Homo sapiens: one gene and its partner. The gene in region 1 interacts genetically with each later gene. Each region holds a gene or a part of one and is shown on either strand. Other genes may lie near its edges.

Region 1 (3,170 bases):
CCAGGCCCTCCAACCCGGCCCCCACACACCGCCCGAGGACCTGCTACACACCGGGCACGGGGAGGGAGCTGCCCTGGGGAAGCCCTGCCCACCCCAGGTGCCACACAAGGCCTTACTGCCCTGTTGCCAAGACAGGCCTGGCCAGGCAGCCACGGTCCACCCAGGGCCTCCACGTGGGCGCCATGGCCAGGATTTCGTTCTTTTTGACATCATGACTCAGGCACCTTGGAAGCCAAGGTAAAAGGGGCGGCGGCCGGAAGGCCCCGCAGACACACTCACCATCTTGGCACTGAAGCGGCCGTGGGCAAGCTCCCCCACAAAGGTGAGCTTACTGGGCTCGGAGTGCCGCAGCAGGTGCGTTCTGACACCCTCGATGGCTTCCACGTAGTCTTCCAGCAGCCTGTGGACACCAGCAGTCATCTCACTCTACCAGGACGGTGCATCGGCTCCCGTGGGGCACCAGGGACAGGCACATCCTGGGCCCACACAAGTACAGCAGGCCTGGCCCTTGCCGGACAGAAGGTGCCACCCTGCACAGCCCATGGCCCTCAGTGAAGATGCCCCCCTCACCCCCCCAGAGGCCACGGTGAGAGGTGAATGAATACGCCCTCCACATAAATGCCTGGGCCAGGCCTGGCACGGCTGCGGTTTCCTGACACACAGTGTGGCGGGGGGCAGCAGGAGCGGGGGCCGTGGGAGCTGGGGGCAGCAGGAGTGGGGGGCTGCGGGAACGGGGGAGCCGCGGGAGCTGGGGGCAGCGGGCCGGGCCTCACTGTGTCTCCTGCTTCCCGCCCTGGATCCACTGCTTCAGCAGGTACTCATAGTAGCTGTCGGCCCTGGCGCCCAGCGTGAATACGCCCAGGTGGGTGAAGAGGCCACTGTGGGTATTGATGAACATGGGCACCAGCCCATCCTTCTTCCCAGACAGGCCGTGGATGTGCTGTGTCACCTTCTCCACTGCCTCCTGCGGCAGAAAGGGGGATGGTGGGTTTACTGGCCAGGGCCGAGCTGCAGGGTGAGCTGTAGAGGGGCTCTGTGAGCTCTGCCTCCCCTCGCCCCAGCACCGACTGACTCCCAGCAGAGAGAGCTCTGTGCCCAGCCCACAGCTGTCCTTGCCCACATGGCTCCTGGTGGCCGTACCACACAGCCACACAGCCACCAGTGCAACGCACCTGAATGTCACTGCTCCCAACGGGTGGTCACCACAGAGCTGACCCATCTTCAGGATGGCTCTCATCCCTTACTCGAAGGGACAGCATCTGACAACCACAGGCACTGTCCTCACGAGAGCCCACCAGGCCTGGCCGTCAGCCATGGCTCTGGAGGGACGGCAAGTGTGCCTGCCTTCTGAGCCCAGTGTTGCTCCTGATGATATTAAACGCCTCGGCTCCACGCCCTCCTGGTGAGCTCCTACTCATCCTCCAAGTCACAGCCACCCTCAGCTCCTCAGGGCTTACGCCCAGCTGGCAGCACCAGGCGTCCTGGCCCACAGAGGGGCACAGGGTACCGGGATGTTAGGGCACGCCCAGCAAGGGCGCTCCGGGTCTCTACCCAACGCAGACACCCAAACCCATGCCCAGCACCTTCGAGGCCTGGCTGCCTATCCCTGTGTACCGGCAGCAACCAGAGGCCCTGGTGACATGGGGGTGCCCATGGGGGCCTGGGGCCATTTTCTGAGCTGCAGTGAAAACGCCTTCTAAATGTCTGCATGGGAGCCTCACGTGGATGGCGTGTGGGAGCCTCACGTGGATGGTGTGGGCTGCACTTCTCACCACAAGTGGTCACAGTTGCTCTAAAGAGGGCTGTGTCCAGCTCATGATTAAAAACAGGGACTCGAACATGAGGCCAAATACATGAGCAACAATAAACTGACCAGCTGTGCTTCATGAAAATGACAATCTGTTATCTATCAAAATACACCATTAACAAAGTAAAAAGAGGCCGGGCACAGTGGCTCACACCTGTAATCCCAGCACTTTGGGAGGCCAGTGGGTGGATCACCTGAGGTCAGTTCCAGACCATCCTGGCCAACATGGCAAAACCCCATCTCTACTAAAAATACAAAAAAATAACGGGGTGTGGTGGTGGGTGTGGTCCCAGCTACTCGGGAGGCTGAGGCAGGAGAATCGCTTGAACCCGGGAGGTGGAGGTTGCAGTGAGCCGAGATCGCGCCACAGCCTCAGGCAGGTGTGTGCACCCACACTCACAACACCCAAAACACAGCCTCAGGCAGGTGTGTGCACCCACACTCACAACACCCAAAACACAGCCTCAGGCAGGTGTGTGCACCCGCACTCACAACAAAGCAGAGCCTCAGGCAGGTGTGTGCACCCACACTCACAACGGCCAAAACACAGCCTCAGGCAGGCGTGTGCACCCGCGCTTACAGCAACCAAAACAGCACAGTCCTGGTGTCCACCAGAGGAGAGAGGATTAAACAAAAAGTGGCCTAGCCACGCAGCAGATATTCAGCCTGAAAAAGGAATCTCTGAAGCATCTTTCGCGTATGAAGCTTAAAGACGCTGAGTGAAAGGAGCCCAAATAAAAGGATAAATCAGCCGGGTGTGGTAGCTCACGCCTGTCATCCCAGCACTGTGGGAGGCCCAGGCGGGTGGATCACGAGGTCAGGAGTTTGAGACCAGTCTGGCCAACTTGGTGAAACCCTGTCTCTAATAAAAACACAAAAATTAGCTGGGCGTGGTGGCAGGCGCCTGTAATCCCAGCTACTTGGGAGGCTGAGGCAGGAGAATCACTTGAACCTGGGAGTGGAGGTTGCAGTGAGCTGAGATCACGCCACTGCACTCCAGCCTGAGTGACAGAATGAGACTCTGTCTCAACAAACGAAAACAAAAAAAGGACAAATCGTGTGTGACTGCACTCACACGAGGAACTCCACACAATGAGGTCCAGGAAGAAAAACCTGAACAGTGTTTTTCAGGGACTGGGGAGGGACATGAAGGGTCACTGTGTGATGGGAGAGCTTCAGTTTTAAGATGAAAAGGGCTCTGGAGATGGAAGTGATAGCTGCACAACAGCATGAATGTGTGTAACACCACTGACCTGTACTCCTGCAACAGCGTGAATGTAACACCACCGACCTGCATGCCTGCAACAGCATGAATGTGCAACACCACCGACCTGCACGCCTGCAACAGCATGAATGTGTAACA
Region 2 (3,821 bases), on another chromosome or scaffold:
CGTAAATGTGCTCATTTACTGTATTCCTCTCTGTCTAAATAATCCCTCTTTCGCATGGTTTTGAACACCAAAGTGACCACATTTTTCCATTTATCTTTTTTTTTTCTAAAGATACTGAAGATTTTGCTATGCCTCAATTGCTTGGATTTTAATCAGTATTTGGTATCAGTCAATATTTGATTATTTCAATATAGAATATCATTATAACTTGAAACAATAATAAAACTCAGTGTTTAAAGATTCCCCTTAAGGAACCGACGTAAGTGCCCATCAGCTAACAAGTGGATAAAGAAAATGTGGTATACATACACCATGGAATACTACTTAGCCATAAAAAGAAATAAAATATTGTCCTTTGCAGTGACTTGGATAGAGCTGGAGGCCATCATGCTAAGTGAAATAACTCGGGAATGGAAAACCAAATATCATGTTCTGACTTGTAAGTGGGAGCTAAGCTATGAGGACACAAAGGTATAAGAATGATATAATGAACTTTGTGGACTGGAGGTGGGAGTGGGGAGAAGGCTGAGAAGAGAGGTGAGGAATAAAAGACTACACACTGGGTACACTACACTGCTTGCAAAACCAGTGCACAGAAATCAGCACTAAAGAATTTATTCTTGTAGCCAAAAACCACCTATACACCAAAAACTACTGAAATTGGAAAAAAAAAAAAAAAAGTTTCCACTTCATGAAATCTTCCCTAAACTTCTGTCATATCTATTGGAAGTCTGATTTGTAGAAGACTCATAAAAGGAAAAATGAAACAGAAGTATCACCTTGCTAACATAAGGTTGGCATTTGGATTATTAGTCCCTGGTCCTGTTGGACTCCATTTGATAGTATAAATTTCTTTATTATGTGCTTGCAAATCATGGACACAATTGTCTTGTTTCATACTCCATATCTAAACAAAAAAGAAAAATGTATACAATTATTTTTCCATACAATGAGTATATTTAAAATATTATTTTGACACTTAAAATATTATATGGACAGTCTAAAACATGAGTGATATAACCAGAATGATGATAGAATATTTACAAAGAAACTGAAATGCAATAGGATATATTTAATATTTACATCTCTGTTTAAAAAAAAAAGTTAGCTTTAAGCCCTTTAAAAATATTCACTATTACAAAGTTTGAAGACTGAATTAACTATAGTTGTTCTGAGATTAGTTAACGATCCTAAAATGTTGAAGGCACAGTTTTTACACTGTCCCTTAAGCAAAAGATCTACATAATAAACTGCTCTTAGAATTTTAGAATCAGGAAAATTTTACAATGGAGAACTGAAAATAAATAACCAACTTATAAATAATGAGGACTCACAGAGAACCGTAAAAAGTAGCATAGGAAATAAAGCTCAAATGAAAAGTAGGAAAAAAAAAAAGTAGAAAAAAGTAGTCAAAGTAGAGAATAAGCCTTTCCTGAGATGAAAATATGCCTGTGTGTATAGATTTCAAGTGACTATTATTTTTGAGCAAAAATTCATAGAAATCAACACGAAGAGTATTTCTGGGAAAAAAAAAATCACTCAATAAAGACATGGTAGGTCCTGCAGTTATCTCCTTAACACATACACATACAACATGCCAAACCCAAGGAGGGCCAACCAAGAAAAAAATCAGCTCAACTTTACATTTCCGTGACATAACCATTAAAAGATAATGAAGCATCAGAGTGTTTTTGGTGCCCTATGTATTTACAACCCCAAGTAAAATAAATCTGAACGACATGTTTTCAGAACTGATTTCATTAGACCTTTCTAATTCATAGAATTTGATACTGTTGGCCACTCTCAACTCTTACCTCCCTTGAAATAAGTTTCCTCTACATACTTTCTTTTTCCACTTTCTCAGTCACCTTCTCAGTTTCCTTTGGAAAGCTCATCCCTCTTGATTTGGTGATTGTTAGAGTTTCTAAGACTCACTTTTTTAGGTCCCCTCTTTTCTTACTCTGTACTACCTACACAGTTTTGTCCCTGCCCCAATTTTTTTTTTTTTTTTTTGGAGATGAAGTCTCACTCTCTTGCCCAGGCTGGAGTGCAGCACCACAATCTTGGCTCACTGCAACTCCGTCCCCCGGGTTCACGCAATTCTCCTGCCTCAGCCTCCAGAGTAGCTGGGATTATAGGCACCTGCCGCCACGCTCGGCTAAATTTGGTATATTTAGCAGAGATGGGGTTTCACCATGTTGACCAGCCTGGTCTTGAACTCCTGACCTCAAGTGAACTGCCCACGTCGGCCTCCCAAAGTGCTTTAATTATAGGCATGAGCTGTGGCAACATGGGGGCACTAGCTGTGGGTGTCTGCCTGCAGACCCTGACCCAGCAATGGATGAATAAAGTACACTAACACACAGATATCCTGTTTCGCCAGTCCAGCTGAGGGTGTCCGAGCCATTTACAGACTCCCTGGAGAGTTCTGTAAACAGTTGCGACCATGGCCCTATCCGCTAGTGAGACTCAAATTTATTCAGTAAGATTAATTCACAAAGGCTTGAGTCAACACCATTAGAGGGTAACTGACATTGTGGACTTCCCAAGTAAAAAGCACTTAAGCACCCATGGCACATCAAAGGTTAGTCTTAATATTATATGAGTAAACAAGCTAGCTAGGTAAACTACCCTGCCTTCCTTTATTACTAGTTTAATTTGTTTAACTAAAGGTAAAGGAACCAGGCCGCGTTCAGCCAGATCTATTACTGAAGTTACTTCTCAGTTTTCCAAGAAGATATGTGTCTATTTCTATAACTATCTCTAATATTTTTCCCACCAGCCTGATTGAACCCCAACAGTGAACCACCAGGCCTGGCCATGCCCAAGGATTTTAAAGACCACCTATCTGCTGAGAATTCCCAGTTTTTAATCTTGAGCTTACAGTTCTCTAAGCATCAGTCCCACCTATCTCCTCCATTCGCATGACTCAGCGTCACCTTCTCATTCCATCTGGCATTCCCTCTTCTCAGAAAACGGCCCATTACACATTATCCATCCATCCTAGTTTTTGCTTTAAAATCCTTTGTGACATTTAAACATTCTTAGGATGAAGAAAAGCTCTCTAACAATTTCTAGTTTTAACCTCTCTCCAGCTTCAACTCAATATGTGGCACAAGGCCCTCTGGACACTGCCCTTCTGTCATTTCCTCATATGTGTCACACACAGTTCCAGAAGAAGTTTTTTTCATGTTATAAGCATTAATACGTGTGCACATAAGGAAAAGCCAAAGATGAAAGCATTAAGAAGAGTATTAATACTAGCAATTTTGTAAGGGAGCCCAGACTTAAGAAGAACTGTCTAAAAACATAGCAGATACTTAAAGGAGAAAACCTCACAAGTTTCGCAAAGTTAAATTTAATCTGTTCATAGTAGCAGGAAAATCAGTTTTCCCTCATGATTTTCATATCTGTAACGGTCATCACATCTGCAGTCCTTGGTACTGCAAAGTCAAGGATAAAACTGTTTTCAGTAGAGGGTTAGCTGTTGCAGGAGAGGGCTCAAAGCTTCATTTATTTTGGAAATAAGTATTACGTTGTTCTTTATCTCCAAATGCTTTTTTCCCCAAATGAGGAATCTGGTGTGCTTAGGTGCGAGACAGCAGTTTTGCTTTTAGTCATACAACAAGAAAAACAGAGATCCATGTTGAGATGTGGATGTTGGTATGTCAACTAGGCTCGCTCACTGAGAGATTCTCTGCTATGTATCAGTTTCCCAGCAATGGTGATACATAGTCATACCACAGCAAAATCAAATTAATACAACGCAAAGAATTCCAATCAAATCCATGAATGCTACAAAGATTTTGAGTACTTATTAA

The links.
Region 2: changes in MAN1B1 (region 1) and TBL1XR1 together harm fitness more than expected from each alone (negative genetic interaction), as found in Homo sapiens cells (one large-scale study listed by BioGRID).

What each region holds. Positions count from the first base shown.
Region 1 is NC_000009.12:137,103,919-137,107,088, reverse strand, and holds part of MAN1B1 (endoplasmic reticulum mannosyl-oligosaccharide 1,2-alpha-mannosidase), read right to left. Parts: coding exon of another isoform or gene 2,724-3,170; exon of another isoform or gene 2,113-2,723; intron 965-2,112; coding exon 774-964; intron 401-773; coding exon 280-400; intron 1-279. Other genes in the region: uncharacterized protein LOC124902313, read right to left, coding at 2,879-3,170. UniProt on the Homo sapiens protein: Involved in glycoprotein quality control targeting of misfolded glycoproteins for degradation.
Region 2 is NC_000003.12:177,033,419-177,037,239, forward strand, and holds part of TBL1XR1 (F-box-like/WD repeat-containing protein TBL1XR1), read right to left. Parts: intron 908-3,821; coding exon 780-907; intron 1-779. UniProt on the Homo sapiens protein: F-box-like protein involved in the recruitment of the ubiquitin/19S proteasome complex to nuclear receptor-regulated transcription units. Plays an essential role in transcription activation mediated by nuclear receptors.